Homo sapiens: one gene and its partner. The protein of the gene in region 2 interacts with the protein of the main gene of each other region in a biochemical or structural test. Each region holds a gene or a part of one and is shown on either strand. Other genes may lie near its edges.

Region 1 (6,012 bases), on a different chromosome or scaffold from region 2:
TGTTAATGATTTTAGTTTAATTCTGCTACAGTCAGAGAACATATCTCTATACTTTCAATTTCTTCAATTTATTGATACTTATTTTATGGCCCAACACAAGGTAAATGTTCATATGAACTTGACAAGAAAATGTATTAGGTCGGGTGTTCTTTGTCAATTTGAGTTAATCGTTAGTGATATTTTGTATCCCTACGAATTTTCTGTCCAATTTTTCTTTAATTACTGAGATTGGAACGTTCAATATTCAATCATAATAATGGATTTGTCTAATTCTCTTCTCAGTTCTATCAGTTTTCGCTGCAATGCATATTGAAAATCTGTTCTTAGGTGTTATTCTTTGTCTTATTGACGAATTGACCCCTTTAGCATTATGAACTGTTCCACTTCATCCCTGGTGATGTTCACTGTTCTGAAGTCTTTTTTGTCTGACATTAATACAGACTTTCGGCGTTCATGTGATTGGTATATGCTTGGTATCTTCTTTCATCCTTTTGACTTCTTTGTTTTACTTTTTAGGAGTTGGTCTGCAGTTTATAGTATGCAGCTTAACTTTTCATCGTGTACTTTCAAATGATATCTACTTCACATGTAATTTAAGATTTTACAGTGTATACTACTTACATATTCCTTCTGCCTTTTTACTATTGTTGTCAGAGATTTTATTTCTATAGATGTTATAAATTGCACATACACTTAATATTTTTGCTTTAGTTTTAAAATTTTGCCAATGAGGAAAAAAAGTCTTTTATATTTATTCACATATTTACTTTTTCCAGCACTTATCCTTCCTTTGTATAGATCCAAGTTTCCATCTGGCATTATTTCTTTCATAGAGATCACTTTCTGTAGCTCTTCATGGTAGTCTTCTCAATTTTTGGTAGTTACAGCTTCCAATTTGAAAAATACTAGAATACATTATAAATGCCTTGCAAAAATCTTTCATAGTTTTAAGTTATTAAGTGAACAATATTATGGCTAGGAGGATTATTATGGATTTGTTGGTTGCTTTTGAAAGGTCTACCTGTTTTGTTTTGTTTTGTTTATTTTTGTGTTTGTTTTTCATCACACTTAGAAACTCCCATCAAGACTGAAGCAGACGTTTTGGCAGAAAACCAGGTTCTTGATAGCAGTGCTCCTAAGAGTCCAAGTCAAGATGTTAAAGCAACTGTTAGAAATTTTTCAGAAGCCAAGAGTGAGAACCGAAAGAAAAGCTTTGAAAAAACAAACCCTAAGAGGAAAAAAGATTATCACAACTATCAAACGTTATTCGAACCAAGAACACACCATCCATATCTCTTGGAAATGGTAAATTATTTTTCTTTAGGTTCTAATCTTTGTGTTCTCACATCATAAAGATAGAGCCACTGGGGTGTGTGTGTGTGTGTGTGTGTGTGTTTGTTTTAAGGTTACCAGAGACACATTGACCTTGGAGACTTTGTATCTTAATTCTGTAGCTACATTTGGCATATAGCTGGTATATTCAGTGAATGTGGAATAATGTAATTTTTACAACCACTTAAAATAAATTTAGGTTTCACTAGTTGGTAAGGAAGTATCTACTGAGGTTTATTGACTTTCTTTTAAGTTTCCAGTGAAAGCACAGCTAAAAGTACAATGGCAAGCTGAAGGGAAAAAAAGATTTTTAGTACAAATGTCTATTGAGAACCATACAGTAACAAAAAGGAAAGGCCTAAGGTTTTCTGACAATTCTCATTTGTTATCTTCTGGGATTGTCTTCCTTCCCTCCCTCCTCCACCTATTTTTTTTTTTTTTTTTTTTAAGAGTTGAGGTCTTGCTTTGTCACCCAAGCTGGAGTGTAGTGGCGTGATCATAGCTCACTGTGGCCTCGAATTCCTGGGCTCAAGTGATCCTACTGCCCCAGCCTCCCAAGTAGCTGGGACTATGGGCATGCACTACCATGCTAATTTTTTTTCTTTGTACACCTTTATTTATTTGTGTTTATTCTGTGCATTCGTGGCTTTATTCTCAGCATTATGTGCTCAAAAATCTAATAGCTTTCTTCAAATTATAAAGAGGAAGCAATGCATCTTCAAGTTCTCAGTAGTGGACATGAAGCTGTTTGAAAATCAAAGATTTTCATGTCTAAGCAATAGAAGTATTTTACATTTTTTAGTGGAGTTATAAAACTTGACATTCTGTGAAAAGTCTGTTTGGTTTTGACTTACAAGTTAAGTACTTATTTTGTAGCTAAAGTGTTCAGTGGCTACACTCTTGAGGTGCTACATGTAGCACAGTTGCTTCCTATTAAAATGGATCTGAAATATACGCTCCATTTTGTATACATAGTAAATTACATTTTAAAAAGTTACCTTATAATTGGTAAATTAAGTGAGCTTTCCACTGAAAGTTTCTGTATGATGTTTCTGAACTCTATCAATAACACCAGAAAATAAAATAAATTCCTTTTTGGCAAACTACATGTGATTCCTTGATTATGTGCTTGTTCTAAATACCAGGGATTTCTAGCTTTCTTTTAATTACAATAAGCACAAAAATGGAAAGTTATAAAAGTCAAGGAATGTTGGAAGTTTTTACTGCTATTTTCATTGTTACATGTAAATAGATGTACTTACCAATTTCTAGACTGCTTATGAATTTGGGTTTGGGCAATCCTCTTTGACATAATTTTAGATTAAAGAATTGCAGACTTTTTAGCCGGGCATGGTGGAGCATGCCTGTAATCCCAGCTACTCGGGAGGCTGAGGCAGGATAATTGCTTGAACCCGGGAGGCGGAGGTTATGGTGAGCTGAGATCGCATGATTGCACTCCAGCCTAGGCAACAAGAGTGGAACTCTGTCTCAAAAAAAAAAGAATCGCAGACGTTTAAACCTATTTTCCTGTCCTATGCTAGATACTCTTAGAGAGGACTCCAAATATAAGCGTTAGTACTGTTTAAAAAGCTAGATTGTCTTGGCCGGGCATGGTGGCTCACGCCTGTAATCCCAGCACTTTGGGATGCCGAGGCGGGTGGATCACAAGGTCAGGAGATCGAGACCATCCTGGCTAACACGGTGAAACCCCGTTTCTACTAAAAATACAAAAAATTAGCCGGGCATGGTGGCGGGTGTCTGTAGTCCCAGCTACTCGGGAGGCTGAGGCAGGAGAATGGCGTGAACCCGGGAGGCGGAGCTTGCAGTGAGCTGAGATCCCGCCACTGCACTCCAGCCTGGGCAACAGAGCGAGACTCCGTCTCAAAATAAATAAATAAATAAAAAGCTAGATAGTCTTGATATAAATTAAAAGGACATGTTCTTGCATCGTTTTTTAGCAAAATAGTGAATATAATACATATTTCTTATTGTTCTGTCTTCTTTATATGGTGAGGGTACATGCAATATTTTAGATTGTATTTCCCAGATATAATTTATTTACTACCTCATCTTTTTTTAAATTGTGTTTTAGCTTCTAGCTCCGGACATTCGACATGAAAGAAATGTGATTTTGCAGTGTGTTCGGTACATCATCAAAAAAGACTTTTTTGGACTGGATACTAATTCTGCGAAAAGTAAAGATGTATAGGCATCTGGTGTTTCAGCATACATAACTGAAGCATGTGAAACAGTATCATCCTCGTTAGTAGAGGAAAACCAAAACCCTTTTTTCCGTCAAAATTGGATTTGTAATTAAATTGTAAGCCTCGTAGGATGTATGTTGGAATTTTAAGTCTTTCCTTTGGTTCTATGCAAATAAAAAAATAACTGATTTTTTAAGACTGTGTCTGTATTGTTGGGATTGAATCTAGTATTTGCTGGGAGAATTTTTTCTTTGTATTTATTTTAATGTATTGTTCTCATGTAAGAATGACTGATGTTGTGTTAGTTAAGAATTGAAGATAGGTTTAGCAGTAAAGAAGAAAGCTTTTAAAAGGATTGATTCAGCTAAGCAAAGTTGGGCAGAGAAATACAGCCATTTTGTTTTTAATGCAGAAAAGGAAGATGTTCTGTAGCAAGGGGGAATATTTTAAAAATAAACCAGATCAAATTAATACAATCAGAAGGTTTCGAAATGTAAATATTCCTTATTTAAGACATGTTTAAATTCACCTACTAGCACGACTTACATAGCTCAAATATTGAATGTTTAAAATATTAATACAGATGGGGCCTCTTTATGTTTAGATAAAATTGAAGTACTTAATTGAAGCTTTTTAAAAATTGTAAAGTAAATGAAAGCTATTGAGATCTTTTTGTCTCCTATAATACCAGGGAATTTGAGCTTGTGTTCTAGTCATTGTACTAGCTGTAGCTATTGGTCTGTCCTTTTGACATACAGCTAAAAGGGACTAAATTTGTAAAAAATTAGTTTGTTATAGTTGAAGATTAACTTTTCCTAACATTGTGATTATTGAAGTTCATGAATCTTGCTGTCAAGGAAGAAAGGTAAGAAAGCTGATAGCTCCTCCATGTTGGTAAAATCCTCTCCAGAATCTTGGAACACCTGGCATGTGACCCTAGTGACGTCACAGACCTGAGATGAAGATTCATGTTTAGCCAGTGTTTTCCAGCCTTGTACCCACCATACAGATCTGTTTATTCTGTTTCACCCTACTCCTCCAGTGAGCCCCATATTTTGGGAAATTATCTGCCTTATACATTAACTAATTCAATTCATGTAACACTGTTGAGTGCTTACTCTTTGTACCTCTATTGTGCCTATATTAAAGGTATACAAATAAATAAGGCCATGTCTGACTTCAAGGAACTCAGTTTAATTTTGATATATTCAAAGATGTGATTCCCAACCAACTCAGGATGAAGTAACTAGTGTTACAACTGAGTTGATATTCTAAAATATAACACAGTTTGTACTTTTATTACTAGTTAGCATACACATTTTATAGGCTTATGGGTTAATAAATGAATTCATGGACTCCTGGACTACTTTCATTGATGACCATATCTCCAGGGATGTTGTTGATCCCCACACTGCCTTAAGGTATATTATAGAAACAGTTTTATTTTCCATTTTTCTTGTTTCCTGATAATAAATGTATTTAGGACTGAAAATACTCCTGAGTACTCCCTTGGCTGTATGTCTGACAGTCTTTAGCTATGGTGACTATTGTTTATTTTTAATGGGTATTTCAGATTCCAAGTGTATTTAAAATTTCTAAGGAGATATAATATAGCCTGTATGGTTTCTACTTTATGGAATTATATGGTCAATATTTGTAAATATTCTATGAGTTTTGGGTGGGTAGAGGGGTGCTTTGCCTGTTTTGGGTACAGGTTTTTTTGGATTTAGCTTGTTAATTGTTCAAACTTTCTGCCTTCTACATTCCTATCTTATTGTTCGTTTAATCAGTTTCTGAAATGTAAGCATTACATGACTATTGGTGAGTTGTGCCTTTTATAACTGAAATACTTTACTTTTTCTCATATCCTCTATAATTGACTTCTATTTTCCTTAATCAAACCAGCTCTGGGAAATTTAATACATTTATATTAATTGAGATTATTAAAACATTTGGACTATTCCTGGCTGTCTTACTTTGTATTTTCTATATATCATGCTCTCTTGTTTTTATTTTGTCATCTTACTGGCTTGTTATTTTTTTCTCCTTGTTATTCCTCCAGTGGTTTGGAAGTAATTAAACCTATTGCTATTTCTTTAGTGATTACCTTTTTTCTTTAAGTTTAGAGTTAATTAGTAGCCACATCTTCCATCCATCTCCCAATTAAGTCAGTAACCTTAGCATTGTTTCACTTCCCCACCTCAGCCTCTTTTTGTGATGTAATCAGATACGATTTTAGTTTTAGATTAATCCCTGGGATCTTGGTGCGTATGTGTAAATAGTTATTAGGCCACTGTGAGTTTTACTGTTTTCTTCTGATTGCTTTCTCTTGCATCCCAGGATTAGTTTTCTGGTGTGCTGCTGCATATCTTCAAGTAATTAAATGTTGAATCTTCAATTTAAAGTTTTTTAAATTGAGTTATGGTTTTAGACTCAAAATCATTTTCCTTTGGAATTTTGAAGCTATAACAATCAT
Region 2 (7,003 bases):
TATAAATACCCTAAGGTTGCAGCCGATTCCTTGCACGGCAGCGCTAACAGCCTTATTTGAACATAACTTAGCTGTCCTGCATAGTCTTTCCATGACAAAGTGGTCAAGTCTTAATAGTAGCCGCGAATGACTATCAAGACTTTAAATTTAGACTGTACATTCGGGGCAATCCAACCATGAGTCATGTTGACATGTGCTTGGGGATAGAACACGCCCACGAATCCCGGCAATAATGTCGTCTGCTCCCCACGTCCTGCCCTACCACAGCTCCCTCCAAACTGCTGACATTTTTACCACAGTTATAGAAAGAAAATTAATGAACATTCCTAGTCTGGGCACACATCTTAACATCCATCCCCTCTCCAATTATAAAATTAAAAGCAACCACTGTAAATTCCCCACGTTTAGCAAAATGAAGAGCTATGGAGAGGAGTGAGCGCTTAAGCCACCTCAAGTAGAATATCCTTGTTGTCACACTAAGAAGCTGGTTCCCACGGAAACACATTGATTTACCCCATTGCTACTGATTGGCTTAGTGTAATCTGAAAATGGACTCCTACAAGGATCAAATTGTCCTGGTCCACACAGTAAAGCAAAGCTGAGATTACTTGCTAAACATTGCTCTAAAAAACAAAAGGCTGCCTATTTTCAAACAAACTCTACATTTAATGTATCTTATTGGCCTTAAAAGAAAAAAAAGAGATGTAACTCCTCTGGCAGTGATGTCATCTTTTATTTTCTGCCCTCCTTGACTGAGAGTGGGCTGAGGTTGTGAGAACAGCCCTCTGGCCTGGAGTCCCTCTGCCTCCTCCACCCCTCCCAGACATGCCTCAGCCAGGTGTGTGGCAGGGCTGGCTGGGGAAGGTAGGCCCAGCTCTAGCTGCGGAACTGGAGCAGGCTGTGGAGGCACAGAAGTGGCAGGGAAACACTCAAGTTTGTCGTTGTGCAGGTGCCTCTGCAATGCATTCCCTGGCTTGAGCAATGGAAGATCAAACCGGCATGGTTCCCTACTGTGCCCACAGCCGGGGGGTTGTTTTTGTCAGTCCTTGGAGAAGAGTATTTGATGCATTCAGGGAGGGCAATGTCAGGCTCGCTGACATCCTCTCCAGCTCCCAGGACAGGCTGTGGAAAGAGGAAGGGGCTGAGGTCGGTGAGTTGTTCTCAGGGTTGCTCAATGAAGATTTGCCCCCAGGAGGAAGCCAGGGTGATGAATGCAGGAGGAATCTGTTCCAACAACCCCCTTCCCCCAAAAAAAACAACCAGACTCAAGATGCTGATAAGAATTCTTTTATGTTATTCCAATAAAAAATACATTCATACAGAAATATAACAATCTTGCAAAAAACAATTTCAAATAAAATCTTGTAAAACAAAATTTTACAAAAATCTTACAAAGATTCTTTAGATAACAGGGTGCTTCCAAAAAAAAAAAAAAAAGAAATTTCACTAATAGAAATTTTTTTTTAATTTCAAGCAAAAAGTTTCTGCTTGATTGAGGCTCAGTTATCACCTGAACAGAATGTACTTCTTTATGTACGTGCTAATTATGAAAATCACAGGCATTGACAGGTACGGTACCCAGCCCCACCCAGGCAAACAGCTCCGACATGTTTCGTAAGTGAGACAAGCCAGTGCAAGTTTTTTTTTTTCCTTTTTTTTTTTTTGTCTTTTGCTTACCTTCTTGCTTAATGGAATTGTTATGGCTAAGCACATAGAAGGCCAAAAAAGGAGTTTTCCAAACCCAGCAAATCAAGTGCTTGGATTCTGAACTGCCAAAAGAAAACTGCACTTCCCCTCTTAAGTAAAACGAAATGAGTTTCTTAGGTAAATGTATTCATCAGCCCAGATAAAAAAAAAACCAGTTATGTGAGCGTTAGTCACTGCTCATTTCCAGGAAGATCAAACAAAATACCAGCCCAGCCAGACTCACATGTGTGTATATATATATAAAGCAAAGAGCCACACCCACAAGCCAGCAGCTGGGTGAAATATCAGCTGTCCACGCCGTGGTATGCCAATTCGGGGAAATTACTCCTTGGAAAAACTGGAAGAATCTACTTGCTGGAAAAAATAGCTTCATCTGCATAAAAAGTGTTCTACAAAAGAATCCCTGTGGTTAGCTTACTCTTAGGTTAGATCTTCTAATAAGGCTGAAATTCAAAATCAAAACCTTAGTGTGTCCGAGTCCAGCCTGGGTTCCAGCATTCTGTTCAGGCCACTTCTGAACGGCCGAAGGTGCCCCATTCCAGACCTGCCCATTTGATGGACAGAGCAGACAGCCCGGAACAGATTCAAGCAAGAAAGTCCTCCGCACATCGTTAAATTAAAGATAAAGCCTCTATAAAAGTTAGGTTATGGTTTTCATTTTTACCTCCTTTATGGCCATTTTGAAATATTTCTTCACAGGCTGTGGAATTTTCTAGCTAAACATTCTAGTTTCTCCTTAAAAAAAATATTTATATATTATCTATATATATAATATATATATATACACACATACACATACTGTACACACAAATATACATACACAAGAATTCTGCCCACTTTTTTAAAAAAGTAGTATACTTTCTGTATTACCAACAGATAGCTAGACAGATATGTGAAACTTGTGCCTTTTAAGCAAATACATTAACATTGGGGGTTTTTTAATACTTCTGTATCTTTAATATGTGTGAAAATGTTACATATTAAATACAGCCGGTGTGTGATCTATACAATTGTTGTGCAAGGTCTATATGAAAGTCTCAAGGTGGCAGAATTGGTCAGATTTTTCCATTTTCCTGTTTTCCATTTTAACACTGACAGTCAAGTTGCCTAAAGTGTTGAACAAATACTGACATGTAAAGGGAGTTTCACTCTATGTCTTTGTGAAGGAGGACCTTAAAGAGATTTTTTTTCTGTATTATACGTTGATACAGTACACTGCCAGGTGAAACAAGAGCCTTAATAAAGCATGCATCGCCCACACCCCTGTATGAGACCCCCACAGAAGGGATCGCTTGCGTAAGGCACCATTATGAAGGTCAACAGTGCATTAACAGCTAGAAAACCAGAAATTAGTCCTCAAGGCATAAATAAGAGAAACATAGCTGCATGAGAAAACAGTTTCTAAGCGTTAGTGGTTTTATCCACCCAACTGAGAAAAATTTTAGGTTCTTAAGTCTAATGAAACATTAGACCAGCAATTCCCAGCCCCAGCTTTGTGACACTCAATACGTGTCCAATTTCTTCTAAGGGCATCACAGAATTCTCCAAAAAGTTAATTCAAATTCAGAATCATTTAAAAATAATCCTGTGTTGCACAATGCCTTTCTGGAAGGGGAGTGTTACAAACTTGGAGGGGAAAAAAAATTGTATATTGCCAGGCCCGGATGGCTAGGGGGTCACTGTATTAGACAGATTGGATCTTAGCTGCTCATTAACTGGAATCAGTATTGCAGTCCTGACTTAAAAATGGAAAAGCATATAGTTCCCCAGACCATGCATGACTTTTTGTATTCTAAGGAAAAGTTAAATTGTTGTGTTATATTTGTAAATACACAGCTTATACAATGGGTTACAAATGAGCTATGTTGTAGCGTGTAAAACAAGCTACTTGACACATTGCACATTTAATAGCTGCACCAGACACTAAGAGTTCCTCTCACACAGAAAAGGGGGAGAGAGGCTCTCCCTCCCCACACCACTCGCCACTCTGGGGTCCTGAGTTCCCACGCCCACCCTCCAAGATTTTCCTTCTTTTTTTGTTTTTGTTTTTTTGTTTTTTTGATTTTTCTTTTTTTTTCTAAGGTGCAGACACCCCCTCCCCCCAAGGAAATGATTGGTGGTCATCTCATCTCATGGTATACTCCTTACACACAAAACATTCAAACTACTTTTTTTCCATCTCTTGCAGTCTTGCTAACCACAAGGAAAAAAAGTTGGCCTCATCATACGGTCAGTAATAGATCCTCAACATACAATCAACCCAACCATTAGCATTCTCAGTGTGCATGCTCACGGCAAAGGCTTAGGCGCCGCTCGGAAGGGCGGGTACCAGTGGCGAGTCCAGGGTCACCCACATACCATGCACCACGGGTGCTATGCCGCTTCTTACAGGACCTTTTTAGCCCTCAAAAGACCTTCCAAGGAGAGGCCCTGGAGGCAACTGGGTAGGGTGCAGAACGGCATGCTTTGGCTGGAACACGCATCCCTCCTTCCACGGCCGGCTCTCAGCCTGGAAGCCTTTTAGCCTACAGGATCCACCTCTCTGCTCCCTCAGAGGTGCCTCTTCATGTGCAGGGCCAGGTGGTCAGACCTGGAAAAACACCTGCAAGGGCAAATCAGAAGCACAGAAGAAGTTAGGTTCCCATCCCTTGCCAGTGTTCTGGACCAGCGCCCTCACCTCCCTGCCCTGCCCAGCCTAACCCCCTGCAGGGAAAGGTGGGATTCTCCTCCCAAGCCTCATCAGTGTCTTCAGGGACAGGAGATACCAACTGATAGGAATGTGAATTAAGAATGTCCCCCACCAGTGGCTGGAGGTTCTTTGGAGAATCTGAACGGACTTCATTTCTAATTCTTCAAATATGAAAACTGTTGAAAGGCCAATCTCCAAACATATCAATAAACTGACTCCAATGTCAGGTGTATGTGGAACAGTTCTTCCTAACCATGGACAATGAGCACACCAGAAACTTTCTAAAAAGTCCCAGGCTTGAAAAGAAATGTTCACACATAGGAAACTGCATGCCTTCCTTCGAATGTGCCCTGCACACCTACTCAACCCTGGTCATCACATTCCCAAGGCCCCACGCTCCTTGCCCAGCATTGTCCTCAGGCACGTACCTGTCACAGTGGGAGCATTTAAAAGGCTTGGCCCCGGTGTGCTTTCGGAAGTGCCTGGTTAACTCATCACTTCTTGCAAAACGCCACTCACACCCTTCCCATGAGCATCTGTAAGGCTTTTCTCCTGGGGAGAGAGCACAGGACAAGCAGCCCATGACTTCACTGACCCGCAGACGGAAAGGGGAAATTCAACAACACACACAGTGGTGGGATGCAAGGCCAGGGACCCAGTGGCTTCTGGCATCGGTAACACACAACAACTGGCAGCCTCAGAGAGACAACAGCAGCTCTCTCCTGACCCAGTCTCAGGCCTCCCACTGCTGTCCAAGGGACACAGCTTCAGCCAAGCCCATGGTGCTGTCATCAAAGTTAACGTGGAAGAACGACCACGACTCAGACCAGCAAAATGCTTGCGGGATGAGGTGTCAGCCTGCCGGACCCACAGCCCCGGCAAAGGCAGAGCTATTGCTTTCTTCATGGCAACTGTTTCTCCCAAACACACTTCTGTTCCATCCTCACTTCCCTATGGAATGTGCCTCTGCAGTTTCCTCAGGGACGTTCTACCTTTCTACAAAGCTGAAGTTACGAGCTTCTGGAAAGCCCCAGTACAGGGCCCCGGAATCATTCTCTAAATGGCAATTGAACAACTGGGTTCACTTCATTCCTTGGTCAAATCATAAATATGAATTTACTACAAGTGCTACCTGAGAAAACAAAGTTGTCAAGCCAATCTCAGGGTATGTTGAGACAGGCCTGGGCCTGGATATTGGGCCACCCGGATCTCAATCTCAGCTGTCACCAAGCCTGTCTGGGACTGACTCTCAGCAATTTGCTCTCCTACTGATAAGAGAAGAGCCTGCATCACGTGATCACTAAGACCCTTCCCAGTTCTAAATGTTCTGTGATTCCTCACCAATTATCCTAGAACATGTCAAGGTATTTTTAAATAGCACTTTCACCTAGGTATGGCATTTCATTAAGAAACTGTTTCAAGCGGTATCAGAAACAAAGGCTGCATGAGACACGGAGAAGTTCTCAGGAAACACTCGCTGATCAATGCTGCTGCTTACAGAGCAGGCCGGTCCCACTCGGGCCTCGGGCCGTCAGCATCAAACCCACACACTCCACGCTGCCCAGCAACCCTCTGTCCTGACCCTTGAGTTTCATTTAGGAAACCCCAGGGCCGCTCGAGGTAGCCTCGTGCGAGTGCACTGGTGAAGGGGCAGTGGCCTCGGATCCCCAGCACTACTAAGGGGTGGGGGGTGGAGGTTTGGGTGTCCGTGGAGAAAAGGATCTAGTCTCTTGTTTGTTTAATCTGAAAATTGTTACACATTTATCCAACTCAAAAGTCCAGTCTTTAGGATTCTACTCTGAACTCCAAAAAGACCTAATGCTTTGGTGGAAAACATCTGAGGAAGTGAGGATTTGTCTGCCCTGACCACATCCTGTGCAGCCAGGCCCGGCTCCCTCCAGGGCTGGTGCAATGCAGTGGCGCCCACCAGCGGCCGCCCTCCGGGGCCCGCGTGGGCACTGACCTGTGTGCGTCCGCTGGTGTGCTTTCAAGTGGGAGCTTTTGGTGTAAACTTTCCTGCAGCCGTTAAAGTGGCACCGGTGCACCCTCCTCCTGCCGTCGGGGGAGGCATCGCCATTTCCCTTGTCACCTGGCTTCCCCGAAGTCCCGCTGCGCACCTTCCCTGGCGAGGGCAGCTCCCCGGGCACGCAACCCCACAGTTGAGAAGGTTCCCTGCTCAGTTCCGGAGAAGATGGAGGCGTGGAGGTGACAGAGGAGCTCAATTTTCCCGAGCTGACCAAAACTTCGCCAATGGGGTCGGAGGTAAACTTGGCCGTGGGAGAAAGTTCCTCGGAGCTGTCAGAGGATTCGCTGCTGACATCTGAGTTCAGGCTGTTGGTCTCTAAGTTGTAACAAAAGCTCGGGCTGATGAGAGTGTCCTCTGGAGGACTGGAAGATATCTTCAGTTCGGATTCCTCCTTTTTCTCCCGAGCCAGAATGATTTTGGTCCACAGATCTTCCTGGCTGTCAAATTTGATTTCTGAGGCTGAAACATAGCAGGGCTCGCTCTGGAGGTAACGTTCCAGCTCTAGGCAGGTCTGTGCAAAATGAACCAGAGAAGGCACGTGATTGCCATGACGACCAAAAGTAAAAGCAAAAGCAATTTCC

Evidence for each region.
Region 1: the proteins of KLF6 (region 2) and NUFIP1 form a complex in vitro, tested with the Homo sapiens proteins (one study listed by BioGRID).

Annotation. Positions count from the first base shown.
Region 1 is NC_000013.11:44,938,735-44,944,746, reverse strand, and holds the end of NUFIP1 (FMR1-interacting protein NUFIP1), read left to right. Parts: intron 1-1,072; coding exon 1,073-1,305; intron 1,306-3,424; coding exon 3,425-3,541; 3' UTR 3,542-5,498; downstream 5,499-6,012. UniProt on the Homo sapiens protein: Binds RNA.
Region 2 is NC_000010.11:3,775,282-3,782,284, forward strand, and holds the end of KLF6 (Krueppel-like factor 6), read right to left. Parts: intron 6,934-7,003; coding exon 6,360-6,933; intron 4,949-6,359; coding exon 4,825-4,948; intron 4,310-4,824; coding exon 4,258-4,309; 3' UTR 715-4,257; downstream 1-714.